Regions from separate parts of the Homo sapiens genome. Here region 1 is linked to region 2. Evidence: fine-mapped QTL for protein levels in blood plasma. A gene starts in region 2. The other region holds a variant in brackets. All regions are shown on one strand. Distances are from middle to middle.

The links. PIP is the chance, under the fine-mapping model, that this variant and not a neighbour inherited with it causes the effect. Protein levels are from antibody-based Olink assays in UK Biobank. Linkage for the fine-mapping came from a reference panel and not from the study's own genotypes, which makes the PIPs less certain.
Region 1: its variant is fine-mapped to the plasma level of the SLC39A5 protein (UK Biobank, PIP 0.93).

The regions. Positions count from the first base shown.
Region 1 is chr12:56,207,341-56,216,408 of GRCh38, forward strand. It overlaps RNF41 (ring finger protein 41), which reads right to left. Exons shown (of 7, transcript NM_005785.4): 3 at 6,618-6,730; 4 at 2,957-3,228; 5 at 823-958; 6 at 306-409. The coding sequence starts at 6,707. Among named protein-coding and RNA genes, the nearest start is that of RNF41, 10 kb to the right of the region's middle. RefSeq lists a silencer at 790-839. The variant C/T (reference allele first, on the strand shown) is at 6,803.
Region 2 is chr12:56,226,466-56,232,499 of GRCh38, forward strand. It overlaps SLC39A5 (solute carrier family 39 member 5), which reads left to right and starts at 3,586. Exons shown (of 13, transcript NM_173596.3): 1 at 3,586-3,657; 2 at 3,775-3,830; 3 at 4,366-4,408; 4 at 4,739-5,096. The coding sequence starts at 4,810. NABP2 (nucleic acid binding protein 2) reads left to right here. Exons shown (of 7, transcript NM_024068.4): 7 at 2,549-3,389. The coding sequence ends at 2,748.

The DNA.
Region 1 (9,068 bases), 18 kb before region 2:
TTTGGCCCTCCTAGCACTCCACAGCCTTTAATACAGGGCTTTGTACATGGGTACTCACCTAATTCTGGATAAAGTGCATCCTTGGGCAGGCTTTCCCTCCATCCACCCAAACACATAAGACATCCTGTAGTGGAGCTAAGGGTTATCCTCTTCTCCTCTGCCCCTGTCCTTAATGCCAATATCTGAGAAGCAGTGACCCCCAGCCCAGCTCTCCAATGCCCTCCTTCTGCTACTCTCCTGCTCTTCCTCCTTTCAGGCCTTGTTGTCAGGACATGAAATCACTCCACGTCCTGAGTGACACTCACTCTAGGATCTCGTTGTATTCAATTGTCTCCTCCAGGTTCTGAAGGTTGGGGTTGACACTGCGGATTGCACGCATGTATGCCTTTAGCAGCTGGATGTCTCGCTTCTGTTGTGGGGAAGAAGAACAGGAATAATGGTTAAGGCAGACAGCAGAAAAAAGACAAAAGTTTATCCAAGAATGAGGGCAACTGAGAGATCTGAAGAACAACCAGTTTGTAAGCTTCAGGAAGACAGGGATAAGACTGTCTCACTCACAGCTGTCTCCTTAGTACTTACAAATGTGCCTTCACAGAGGAGGCATGTGATAACTGGTAGGTGAATTAATGCTATGAATGGGATGAAGAAAAGTCAAGGAGAGCTCCAATCTGATTCCCTGCTAAGCCACAGGCAGAATATCCACTCATCTAGGCTCACAAGTGTAAGCACTGGTCTGTGTGTTCACAACTGGTTTTTATTACCCACAGGCAGGCAGTTATCTGCATATGAGGGATATGTTCTCCCCCGTGTCTTGGGGCCTACCTGCTCCGCCAGCTGGTGTTTGTGTTCAGCTGACGTCTTCTCCAGCTCTGCGATGCGTGTCTGCTGCTGCTGTACCACTGAGCGCAGGTGCTTAATGCAGTTATGGTTGGGCAGCTCATCTTTGGGCATCTCCAGGCTGCAGACCAGGGTGGGGAAAGAGCAGAACAGAGGTGATCCCTGGGACATGTATGCAAATGGCCTATTCTGTGGCAGATAACTGCTAAGTAGATTTTGTCCTACCCAAAATTTCTAACATTCATTTCAGGCCTCCCTCTTGTTTATTCCCTTCACTTTCTTCGTCCAAGCTTCCTACTTGCCCCTTTGCTGTCTATTTTCCTTAAATTTCTTTCCCCAATCAAGACACAGTGTTTTATCTATTTTTTAAATTTATTTTATTTTGTATTTTTATTATTTTTTTTGACACGGAGTTTCGCTCTTGTTGCCCAAACTGGAGTGCGATGGCATGATCTCAGCTCAGCGCAACCTCTGCCTCCCAGGTTCAAGCGATTCTCCTGCCTCAGCCTCCCGAGTAGCTGGGATTACAGGTGCGCGCCACCATGGCCGGCTAACTTTTTGTATTTTTAGTAGAAATGGGGTTTCTCCATGTTAGCCAGGCTGGTCTCAAACTCCTGGCCTCACGTGATCTGCCCCCCTCGGCCTTCCAAAGTGTTGGGATTACAGGCGTGAGCCACCGCGCCTGGCCTTTTTTTTTTTTTTTCGAGACCAAGTTTCACTCTTGTCACCCAGGCTGGAGTGCAATGGCACGGTCTCAGCTCACTGCAACCTCCGCCTCATGGGTTCAAGTAATTCTTGTGCCTCAGCCTCCCGAGTAGCTGGGATTACAGGTGCCCACCACCACACCTGGCTAATTTTTATATTTTTAGTAGAGATGGGGTTTCACCATGTTGGCCACGCTGGTCTTGAACTCCTGACCTCAGGTGATCCGCCCGCCTCGTCCTCCCAAAGTGCTGGGATTACAGGCGTGAGCCACCGCACGGGGCCTATTTATTTATTTTGACACACTGTTTTTATCTACTGCACAGCTCTCCTTTTCCTCCTACAGATTCTGCCTGTGCACTTATTCCTTCAGAGAAGCCCTATATTCACAGCCCCAGCTATCAACATTCTTTTTATTTTTTAGTTAGGGGGAACAGAGTCTCATTCTGTCACCCAGGCTGGAGTGCAATGGCGCGATCTCAGCTCACTACAACCTCTACCTCTGGTTTTAAGTGATTCTCATGCCTCAGCCTCCTGAGTAGCTGGGATTACAGGCGAGCACCACCACACTTGGCTAATTTTTTTTTTTTTTTTTTGAGACGGAGTCTCGCTCTGTTGCCCAGGCTGGAGTGCAGTGGCTCAATCTCTGCTCACTGCAAGCTCCCCGTCCCAGGTTCATGCCGTTCTCCTGCCTCAGCCTCCCAAGTAGCTGGGACTACAGGTGCCTGCCACCACGCCTGGCTAGTTTTTTGTATTTTTAGTAGAGACGGGGTTTCAATGTGTTAGCCAGGATGGTCTCAATCTCCTGACCTCGTGATCCACCCGCCTTGGCCTCCCAAAGTGCTGGGATTACAGGCGTGAGCCACCGCGCCCGGCCCCACACCTGGCTAATTTTTGTATTTTTAGTAGAGACAAGGTTTTGCCATGTTGGCCAGGTTGGTCTTGAACTCCTGGCCTGAAGTGACTTGCCCACTTCGGCCTCCCAAAGTGCTAGGATTACAGGTGTGAGCTAACATGCCCTTCAGCTATCAACATTTAGTCGAATATTTCATAACCCACAGAAATAAAAAAATAGGGCAAGAGGAAATATGAGAAGGCTGGCAATTATAGCAGTCAACCTGACAAACGGAAAGTAGTATTGGACTGAAAGGGAAGAATAGAGTCAATCAAGCTTTAATGTTATTACACAAATTTACTAAATTGCTGTGCCCCTTCTTTTGTTAAAGCAAGAGCAAAATGATTATAGTTGGAAAAGCAGCAAGAAAGTAAGATCTTAGAGCAGGAAGCCAAGGAGGCTAAGAATACTCCTTGCCAACATGCCAAAGAGACCTCCTCAGCTAGTGAGGAGGGCAGCCAGAGACAGGGGCATAAATGAGATGGCCCTTATCCATGTGGGGCAGAAGGGAACAAATCTCACCCACAGCCCTGTTCACAGGTCACAGGCCGCTTCGGGTTGTGCTCACAGTCGCTGAGGTGAGACATGAGGTTGTCAAGCCGGACAACGGCACTACAGCCGAACACAGCGTTGTCACAGGCAATCTGCAGCTTTGACAACATGTTCCGCATGATCCGAGGTACTGGGCGCAGATGGGCGACCGTCACAACACTACGGTCCACTGGACATGTCTGTTGCTGAGAGAACCACTGGGTGATGCAGGCGTTGCAGAAAGCATGTTCACAATGAGGTGCCTAGAAGAGAGAACAAGGCAAAAGGGGCGCAAGGGAATTAGCAGGACCTAAGAGCCTGGATATGATATAACTCTACAAAGCCAATCAAGCCTTTGAGCAGCCTCTACGACAAGAGGTCCACTGGGTCACAGCAAAGTATAGATCTACTACGGGCAAGGCATTGTAGGGGACAGGCTTAAGATACGTTTCCTGCTGGGCACGGTGGCTCATGCCTGTAATCCCAGCACTTTGGGAGGCTAAGGCAGGCACACTGCTTGACCTCAGGAGTTTGAGACCATCCCAGACAACATGACAAAACCCCATCTCTACAAAAATTACAAAAATTAGCCGGGCATAGGCCGGGCGCAGTGGCTCACGCCTGTAATCTCAGCACTTTGGGAGGCCGAGGCAGGCGGATCATGAGGTCAGGAGTTCAAGACCAGCCTGACCGACATGGTGAAACCCTGTCTCTACTAAAAATAAAAAAATTAGCCAGGGGTGGTGGCGCATGCCTGTAATCACAGCTACTCAGGAGGCTAAGGCAGGAGAATAGCTTGAACCCAGGAGGTGGAGGTTGCAGTGAGCCAAGATCACACCACTGCACTCTAGCCTGGGCAATACATCTCGAAAAAAAAAAGCTGGGCCTGGTGGCACGTGCCTATAGTCCCAGCTAGCCAGGAGGCTGAGGTGGGAGGATGGAGGATGGCTTGAGCCCATAAGGCGGAGGTTGCAGTGAACCAAGACTGCACCACTGCACTCCAGCCTGGGTGACAGAGCCAGAACCTGTTTCAAAATAAATAAATAAATATATATATATATATTCCCTGTGCTCAAGATTAAAAATGAGTTGTGAAACAAGACAAACAAGTAAAAAGTTATATAACAATAAGAGATACAAATGATATTCTAGGACAATAGGACAGATGACACAAGGCAGCCAATTATTAATTGCCATCTGGATTGCATACACAATAATTGCCAAAAATGTCCAGAGGAGGGTGAGGTCTTTTCAGGCTAGCTCAATCACGGCAGGTATTTATGAAGAGGACAGAATTTGATATGGGTCTTGAAGGATAATTCAGATGATAGATTTAGAGAGGAGGAGGACATATTTACTGGCAAAAATTCAATGTAAGAAAGCTAGGCCAGGCATGGTGGATGGCGCCTGTAATCCCAGCACTTTGGGAGGCTGAGGTGGGCGGATAATGAGGTCAGGAGATTGAGACCATCCTGGCTAACATAGCGAAACCCTGTCTCTACTAAAAATACAAAAAATTAGCCGGGCGTGGTGGCGGGTGCCTGTAGTCTCAGCTATTTAGGAGGCTGAGGCAGAAGAATGGCGTGAACCTGGGAGGCAGAGCTTGCAGTGAGCCAAGATCATGCCACTGCACTCCAGCCTAGGCTAAAGTGTGAGACTCCATCTCAAAAAAACAAAACAAAACAAAGCTAAATAAGGCCGGGCATGGTGGCTCATGCCTGTAATCCCAGCACTTTGGGAGGCCAAGGCAGGCAGATCACTTGAGATCAGTTCAAGACCAGACTGGCCAACATGGTGAAACACAGATATATTCATATATACATATGTATACACAAATACATATATATGCAGACATCTATTCATATTTGCTTATATCTGCCTTAAGACACACTGGAAGGATACCAAATAAACTAATAAAAATAGTTATCTGTGGGGGAATTAGGTGCACAGTAATAAAGACAGAAGTGAGAATTCTCACTGTATACCTTTTGATTTCTGAACTATGTTCATTTTTCACCTATTCAAAAAATAAATAATTATGATGTGGGGAAATCAGCATCCCTAGCAGGAGCCTTCTAACCTTAGAAATGTGTCTGGGAACCTGGCATCATGAGGGTTGCCTGCTCTGCTCCTCAGAAGATAAAGCCTGGAGGTAGATGGGTGGCTTCTGACTAGACTGTCACCAACTACGACTCACCTTTCCATAAGTGACTTGCCTAAAATGATAGTGCCAGAAAACAGACAAGGCCCTGCCAGGGTGAGGAGGGAACCTGACACACCCTGTGACCTCTTGACACTACTACTTGATGACTTGCTCCACACCCATCTAATATGCCTCTAATGGCAGCAGACTGCAAAGGCCTAGAAAGAAGACAGGTCCAGAGTTGGTTGCCATTGGAATGCAGTCTGAATTTTATTCAGCTCAAGGCATCAGTACTCCTTTTGGAGTAGTACTGGGAGAAAAAATAAAGGCTCAAGGGGAGCCCCTGGGAGTTAGGTGAGCAGTGAATGGGGGAAGGGCCATGAAACCTCATTGCCTAGTGTCCTGGTTTGGAAAATGTGATAATCTCTAGATAGCCAGGAAAGAGAAAGGATTAATTGGTATTTACAGAATGAGGGCAATAAGGATCCTGGAGGATGCTGTCCCATGAATACAACTCTTAAGGATTCACCTCACTCATTGTACTTGCCTGGTAATCGTGAGCTTCTCCTCATACTTGCCCCAGGATGATACAACTGACTCTGGTCTGGCAAGGCTGGCAGAGAAATGACCTATTGAAGGTGGCAGCTTTCACATCAAAATGCAGAGTGCATGGCTGTATCAAAAGCTGGTCTTTTCAGTAGATCCCAGGAAAAAAATAGGTCAGTACATACAGTTCCCCACTTCCTATTTGTTTTTGTTTTTTTTTTTTTGAGATGGAGTCTCACTCTGTCACCCAGGCTGGAGTGCAGTGGCACAATCTCGGCTCACTGCAACCTCCTACTCCCGGGTTCAAGCAATTCTCCTGTCTAGCCTCCTGAGTAGCTGGGACTACAGGTGTGTGCCACCACGCCCAGCTAATTTTTGTATTTTTAGTAGAGACGGGGTTTCACCATGTTGGCCAGGATGGCTCTTGAACTCGTGATCCACCCACCTTGGCCTCCCAAAGTGCTGGGATTACAGGTGTGAGCCACTGTGCCCAGCCTTCCTATTTGTTAGACAGTAGGCAGGTAGAAGAGGCCTGCAGGGAGCCTGGCTGATTACCTGAAGCACTACATCATAAAAATGCAGAGAGAACTTATTAGGAGAGTCCAGAAGTTCAATCACGGACAGGAAGATGGAACCTAGTAAGAGTTCCTGTAGAGGAAAGGAAGCTACCCAGCTACTATCACAAGACAGAAACAAGCAGCTGACTGTTTTACAGGAGAAATCTTTCAGAGTGACCTCAGAAAAAAATCTGAACCACTGGATCTCTGTGGCATCCACCTCTAGATTGATTCTGGAAGGCCTTATTCTTGTAGTCACCATTACTCCTTTGACCTAAATCTCTATTGGGTGAGGGTGGAGAGAAGAACACAGTGACTTCACCATGGGTCCCGCTGCCCATGAATATTTTCTACTAGTTCCACTGCTACCTGTTGCCCCACCAAACCTGCCATCAGACCAACTCACCTGTACTGGCTCCTCCAAGACTCCACTGCAAATAGGGCAGATAAGATCTTCGTCAACATCCCCCTGGAAACGGGTTACATCATACCCCATGTCTCATCACTGAAACCCAGGTCCTGAAAGGACAACAGGAAAAAGAGGCCAGTTCAGAAGAAGCCTACAAATATGTGACAAACATACACTCATTG[C/T]CAAGATCCATTCATTTATCCAACAAATATTTACTGGGAGTCTACTATGCAGCAGTCATTTGGCTCGGTGGAAGCTGACTCAAGAAATTTAATTCTGGCCAGGTGCAGTGGATCACGCCTGTAATCCCAACACTTTGGGAGGCCGAGGCAGGCGGATCACCTGAGGTCAGGAGTTCAAGACCAGCCTGGCCAACATGGTGAAACCCTGTCTCTACTAAAAATACAAAAATTAGCTGGGTGTGGTATGCGCATCTGTAATCCCAGCTACTCGGGAGGCTGAGGCAGGAGAAGCATTTGAACCCAGGAGGCAGAGGTTGCAGTGAGCCGAGATCGCGCCACTGCACTCCAGCCTGGGGAACACAGCGAGCCTCAGTCTCTAAAAAAAAAAAAAAAATTAATTCTAAGGCCTGGCACAGTGGCTCACGCCTGTAATCCCAGCACTTTGGGAGGCCGGGACAGGCAGATGAGCTGAGGTCAGGAGTTCAAGACCAGCCTGGCCAACATGATGAAAACCCAGCTCTACTAAAAATACAAAAATTAGCTGGGCGTGGTGATGCACATCTGTAATCCCAGCTACTTGGAAGGCTGAGGCACAAGAATCACTTGAACCCAGGAGGCAGAGGCTGCAGTGAGCCGAGATTGCACCACAGCTCTCTAGCCTAGGCAACAGAGTAAGACTCTGCCTTAAAAAAAAAAGAAAAAAAGAAATGTAATTCTAATGGGGGAAGACATTATATAAGCACACATTTAAAATATAAAGTGATAAATACTCAGAGTAGAGACAGGACCTTATGAGGACAAGAGACATGAATACCTAACCCAGGCTGAAAGCAGAGGGTGGTTTTGACAAGTTTTCCAGGACTGGGCGTCACCAGAAACGTGTCCTGTAGGGCAAGAGTCAGCTAAATGTTGGGGGAGCAGGGCATTAGGGTGTTATGCACATAAAATAGCACATCCAAATGCCCAGAAGAGGGCATATGATAGGTTCAGAGAATTTCAAGTGATTCAAGAAAAGGCTGACCTGAGAGGTGGGAGGGAGGGCCTGTCAAGAGACAAGGCTGGAGAGGCAAGCAAGGGCCATGCTGTGAAAAGTCTGTGAGGATTTTGGACTTTATTCTGAAGGGTATGAGAGAGCCACTGAAGGACTTAAAAAACAATGTGATAATAGTTCCATTTTAGAATCAGTATGTTAACAGGGGAGAAACTGGAGACCGGAAGAACATCTAAGTCAGGAGAGTGACGGTAAGAGTCTGAACTTAGGTGGTGGTGGTGATGGGGATAAAGAAGAGAAGAGAGGGCCGGGCATGGTGGCTCATGCCTGTAATCCCAGCACTTTGGGAGGCTGAGGCAGACGGATCATGAGGTCAAGAGATCAACACCATCCTGGCCAACATGGCGAAACCCCGTCTCTACTAAAAATACAAAAATTAGCCAGGCGTGGTGGTGCGCACCTGTAGTCCCAGCTACTCGGGAGGCTGAGGCAGGAGAATCGCTTGAACCCAGGAGGCGGAGGTTGCAGTGAGCCGAGATTGCACCACTGTATTCTAGCCCAGTGACAGAGCACGACTCTGTCTCAAAAAAAAAAAAAAAAAAAAAGAGAGGTCCAAAAGAGCAAGGACTCAAACAGCGGCAATGGCGCCATGCCCCTTCTTTGGGCTCCCAAAGGTCAAACCCAAAGAAGAGGTCAGTAAACAACTGGCTGGGCGCAGTGGCTCACGCCTGTAATCCTAGCACTTTGGGAGGCCGAGGTGGGTGGATCACCTGAGGTCAGGAGTTCAAGACCAGCCTGGCCAACATGGTGAAACCCCATCTCTACTAAAAATACAAAAATTAGCTGGGCATGGTGGTGGGCACCTGTAATCCTAGCTACTTGGGAGGGTGAGGCAGGAGAACTGCTTGAACCCAGGAGGTGAAGGTTGCAGTGAGCTGAGATCATGCCACTGCACTCCAGCCTAGGCGACAGAGCAAGACTCTGTCTCAAAAAAAAAAAAGAAGAAACACATAATCCTTGTCCTCAAACTAAGGTGTAGGCTTGAGCCCAATGAGTACATAGGAAAAAAAACACATAAAAACACATAAACGTATTAAGCAAATTATTAACAAGTAAAAGTCAATAATTTATGTAAGTTGTAAATATACAAAAAAGAACAAATGGTACAGATTAATCACAGAAAGCTTTCTGCAGAAAGAAGTTTTAAGAACTGGACTTTCAAGGGCAGAAGGAATCCCGAGCGACAGAGAAGAGGGTTGAGGCCTGGAATGGGAT
Region 2 (6,034 bases):
CTCCTCAGCCTAGAAAGATGCATTTCCCTCATTCCTTTTCCAAATCTCTCTTTTCTCAGTGTATCCTCCTTCACCCAATTCTCCCAGACCCCTTTTTTTTTTTTTTTTTTTTTTTTTGAGACGAAGTCTCGCTCTTGTCAACCAGGCTGGAGTGCAATGGCGTGATCTCGGCTCACTGCAACCTCCGCCTCCCAGGTTCAAGTGATTCTCCTGCCTCAGCCTCCCAAGTAACTAGGATTACAGGCACCTGCCACCATGCCCGGCTAATTTTTTTTTTTTTGAGATGGAGTCTCTGTCACCCAGGCTGGAGTGCAATGGTGTGACCTCGGCTCACTTCAACCTCTGCCTCCTGGGTTCAAGTGATTCTCCTGTCTCGGCCTCCTGAGTAGCTGGGATCACAGGTGCACGCCACCATGCCCTGCTAATTTTTTGTATTTTAGTAGAGACGGGGTTTCACCATGTTGCCCAGGCTGGTCTCGAACTCCTGAGCTCAGGCGATCTACCCACCTCAGCCTCCCAAAGTGCTGGGATTACAGGCGTGAGCCACCGCGCCCAGCCATGGGCTGCAGATATCTTAGTCCAGTGGAGCAGCAGGGTTCAGTAGAGATATGGTTTAAGAACTAGACTGGCTGGGCGCAGTGGCTCATGCCTATAATCTCAGCACTTTGGGAGGCCAAGGCTGGCAGATCACCTGAGGTCAGGAGTTCAAGACCAGCCATGGCCAACGTGGCGAAACCCCATCTCTATTAAAAATACAAAAATTAGCCAGATGTGGTGGCAGGAGCCTGTAATCCCAGCTACTTGGGAGGCCGAGGCAGGCGAATGGCTTGAACCTGGGAAGTGGAGGTTGCAGTGAGCTGAGATCATGCCACTGCACTCCAGCTTGCGCGACAGTGAGACTCTTTCTCAAAAAAAAAAAAAAAAGAACCACTAGGCTATAACTTCCATGCCATTTAGGGTTCATAGTCCCTACTGTATGCAAGAAGCAAACCTCTGCCTTCATATAACAAATGTTTCTAGAGCACCTACTATTTGCCGTGGAATAAAACACACTACCTGCCTTTAGGGGCTTGTGGTTTATACAGGAGAGAGATAATGATTATAATACGCCATGGTTAAGTTCAATGACAGTGGTATGTCCAGAGTTGTGAGAGCTCAAACAAATCATCCCACACACCTGGCTTCAAACATTGAAAATATAAGCCAGACGCAGCGGTGCACACCCATCATCCTAGCTACTTGGGAGGCTGAGGCAGGAGCATTGCTTGAGCAAGGAGTTTGAGGCTGCAGTGAGCTATGATCACACCACTACACTCCAGCCTGAGTGACAAAGTGAGACCTCATCTCTAAAACAGTAAAAATTAAAAAATAAATATTTATATACACAAAAATGTGACTTGTTATTAGCTTTGGTGGGTAAGATTACGTGTAATAATCTTTTCACTAGCTGGGCGCAGTGGCTCGCGCCTGTAATCCCAGCACTTTGGGAGGCCGAGGTGGGTGGATCACCTGAGGCTGGGAGTTCAAGACCAGCCTGACCAACATGGAGAAACCCCATCTCTACTAAAAATACAAAATTAGCCAGGCGTGGTGGCTCATGCCTATAATCCCAGCTACTCAGGAGGCTGAGGCAGAAGAATTGCTTGAACCTGGGAGGCGGAGGTTGTAGTGAGCTGGGATCGCTCCATTGCACTCCAGCCTGGGCAACAAGAGCGAAACTCCAACTCAAAAAAATAAATAAATAAAAAATAATAATAATCTTTTCACTGATGGTTATCTATATTTTCTAAAATGAACATTATCATTATCGTACACTCATACACACCTTTTTTTTAAGTGCCTCATATTTTAACGCAGAGACTTCAGGCCCTTCCCCTTGCCATGCTTCTCCAGTTTTATAATCACTTTTGGTGAAGGGGCCTTTTTTTTTTTTTTAATTGAGAAGGAGTCTCACACTGTCACCCGGGCTGGAGTGCAATGGTGCAATCTCGGCTCACTGCAACCTCTGCCTCCCAGGTTTAGGCGACCCTCCTGCCTCAGCCTCCTGAGTATCTGGGATTACAGGCGCCTGCCACCACACCTAGCTAATTTTTTGTATTTTTAGTAGAGACGGGGTTTCACTATGTTGGCCAGGCTGGTCTCGAATGCCTGACCTCGTGATCCACCCGCGTCAGCCTCCCACCGTACTGAGATTACAGGTGTGAGCCACCACGCCTGGCCCAGTAAAGGGGCATTTTTGTCAGAGGTCCCTGAGCCTAGAACTAAACAGCTAATTCTAGGTCTGATTCCCAATAATAGTGAGATAACTACAAGAGAAAAATACCGTACCGAGGTTCATGTAGCAACTTCCTAAATGATCGTGTAAGTCTTCTCTGGAGCTCCATTCATACTCGCAGCCCACAGTCTTTTGCATTTGGTCCAGTTGGCATTAAGATGCAGTTGTGCATGGTGAAGACTGTGCCACTCTTTGGGGCATGGAGACAGGCCTTGGGATGGACCCCTCTCCTATGTTAACTAATTCCTTTGTTTCTTCTCCTCCCACAATTAGCCTCTGAGAACCAGAATGGGAATGGACTGAGTGCCCCACCAGGTCCCGGTGGTGGCCCACATCCCCCTCATACTCCCTCCCACCCACCCAGCACCCGAATCACTCGAAGCCAGCCCAACCACACACCTGCAGGCCCGCCTGGCCCTTCCAGCAACCCTGTTAGTAACGGCAAAGAAACCCGGAGGAGCAGCAAGAGATAGCATGACATTCTTTCTTCCTGCCACCAACCACATCCCAAGTGTCCCCTGGAGAGCAAGATAGCCTTCCACTGATTGGCTGGTGTAGCAGTATTTTAGCCACTGAACTTCAGTGGAGGGTGGTGAGCAGTGTCCTTATCCACCCTAATCTCATACTCCCTCATTGTCCAGCTGAACTACCTGTCCCCTGGGAGTCAGGACCCTCTGCCTGCTCTCTTTCCTCTTTAGAAATGGCAGTTACTGGCTGGGCGCAGTGGCTCACGCTTGTAATCCCAGCACTTTGGGAAGCCGAGGTGGGCGGATCACCTGAGGTCGGGAGTTCAAGACCAGCCTGACCAACATGGAGAAACCCCGTGTCTACTAAAAATACAGAATTAGCCAGGCATGGTGGCGTATGCCTGTAATCCCAGCTACTTAGGAGGCTGAGGCAGGAGAATCTCTTGAAACCGGGAGGCGGAGGTTGAGGTGAGCCGAAATTGCACCATTGCACTCCAGCCTGGGCAATAAGAGCGAAACTCCATCTCAAAAAAAAAAGAAAGAAAGAAAGAAAGAAAGAAAGAAATGGCAGTTACCATCTGTTTCTTCTGTGTGAGACATGGGAGTCTAACTGAAGTCTCTCCTTCCTAATAAATGTTACCACTCTACTCTGTGTTGGACTCCTTTGCTTTCTGTGGGAAAAGGAAGAGGTTAGCAACTAGGCATTTGGGAAGGTGGGGTGTCCCTAGAAGGTGGAAGGAAAATAGGTTACAGGTAAGGAGGCCCAGGCAAAGCAGACCTGCCCCTTTAAGGTAGTGTCCCTCCCCTACCCCCTCCCTGCAGGTGACCCTTGCCCGCCTGCCTGCCTGCCCCCCCAGCTGGAACCAAGAAGGTTGTGTCCCCCTTCCTCTGGGTGTCCTTGTCTCCTGCTATCAGGTAATGCCAACCTCAACCCCCTGGACCAGTCACCCCGATCAGACTTTGCTTGCCTGATTTTAGGCCAGGTCAGACATCAGAGGAGAGCCCAGATCCTTGTTTCCTCTCCCCCCGCAGGGCTTCCCCTTTCTTGGTCATCGATCCCTAGAGCTCTGGCTCTTTCTCTTCTTGGGGTGAGAAACTGCTAAGAACAGTTTATTTCCCATGCATGCATCTGGGCTTGCCACTGATCTGCCTTTTCCCCCCTCCTCCCCAGGTTAGGGACACCTGGGTCCAACCTTCCCAAGGAATATGGGGATGGGGGTTGGAGATGAAGTTTAGTGCTAGACTGTAAGGTAGGTGGGGTGGAAGTACATGAGGGAAAGGGCTAAAATGGTACTAATGGTGTTAAGGATAGGGTGAATTATTTAAGAGGAAAAAGACTAGGCCCAGGTTCTCCTTAGCCATGTGGCTTTCCCAGGGCAGAGGGTGGCCCCTCCCTACCCAGGGGCCCAGCAGAGACTGACTTTTGATCCCTACCCCAGAGACCAGTGAACCATTAACTCCTCTCTTATGTGAGCCTTCACACACTGGCCCCACCCCTGACCCCGCCCCAAGGCAGGTGGGCTAGGAGGGGGTGCATGTCCATCTCAGCCTTCTATGTGACGTGGCCTCCGATCCACCTGGACACCTGGAGGCTAAGCCTGGATTCCCCCTTCCCTGACTCAGGAACTGCTTAACGTCTACAGCAAGGCCTAATAGGGGACCTGAGGTGACAGCTCTTATGTTGCCAGTAGGGGTGAGGCCCTGGGGATTGAGGGGGGATAAAGAGGTGGGGCAAAGTTGAGGGGTGGGGTTTAGGGGACAAGGAATGGACGGTCAGCTCTGGATGAAGTATGAGGAGAGCTCTGACTCAGGGAGGTGCTCCAGGAACCAGCAAACAAGAGGCTGCTCCCGCAGGAGGCAGTGTGAAGGGAGAAAGAAGGCTGCAGTAGGGGCTGCTGCTGGACTCGGTGGGGAGCAGGTGCAAGGAGCTCTGGCTCCCCCATGGACCTGAGCTGGAGAGCAGAGCGCAGCTCCAGCCCATTCCTCATTCTTCCAGGGCACAGTCCTCAGGATGTTTCGGGGAGAATAGGAGCCAGAACCTGAGCCCCTAAGCTATTCCCCTCACCAATGATGGGGTCCCCAGTGAGTCATCTGCTGGCCGGCTTCTGTGTGTGGGTCGTCTTGGGCTGGGTAGGGGGCTCAGTCCCCAACCTGGGCCCTGCTGAGCAGGAGCAGAACCATTACCTGGCCCAGCTGTTTGGCCTGTACGGCGAGAATGGGACGCTGACTGCAGGGGGCTTGGCGCGGCTTCTCCACAGCCTGGGGCTAGGCCGAGTTCAGGGGCTTCGCCTGGGACAGCATGGGCCTCTGACTGGACGGGCTGCATCCCCAGCTGCAGACAATTCCACACACAGGTACTGACCCCTTCCTCCACTCCACAGGGCCACATCTCCCAGGTCCTCTCAGTGCTTGCCCCCAGTTGCCTCGTTCTGGCTTCCTCACGAGATCCCTGGAGTTACAAATTCTTCAGAACCGAGCTCCTTGGTATCTCTTCAAAACCTCTCATGCTTCTATTGCCTTCTCTCTCTTTTCTTGAGACTGGGGGTCTCGCTTTGTCACCCAGGCTAAAGTGCAGTGACACATTCACGGCTCACTGCAACCTCTGCTTCCCAGGCTGAAGCCATCCTCCCACCTCAGCCTCCTGAGCAGCTGGGACCATAGGCACACACCACCACAGCCGGCTAATTTTAAAAATTTTTTACAGAGACAAGGGTTTCGCTGTGTTGCCCAGGCTGGTCTCAAACTCCTGGGCTCAGCTCAGCGATCTGCCTGCCTCAGCTTCCCAAAGTGCTGGGACTACAGATGTGAACTACCACCCTAGCCCTCCGTTGCCTTCTAATTCTCTCCTCCTCCAAATCTCTAAGCCCTTAAATTTCTTGCTCTTAGTATCACTGTTCAGTGTCTCTGGGCTGATTTGGCTCCAAATTCGTAGACTTCTTTTTTCTTTTCTTTTCTTTTTTTTTTTTTTTTTTTTTTGAGACAGAGTCTCGCTCTGTCGCCCAGGCTGGAGTGCAGTGGTGTGATCTTGGCTCACTGTAACCTCTGCCTCCCCGGTTCAAGCGATTCTCCTGCCTCGGCCTCCTGAGTAGCTGGGATTACAGGCACACACCACCACGCCGGGCTAATTTTTGCAATTTTAGTAGAGACGGGGTTTCACCATTTTGGTCAGGCTGGTCTCGAACTTCCAACCTCAGGTGATCCACCCACCTCAGCCTCCCAAAGTGCTGGGATTACAGGCGTGAGCCACCGTGCCCAGCCATTCGTAGCCCTTTTGGTTGTCGTCCTTTTTTTT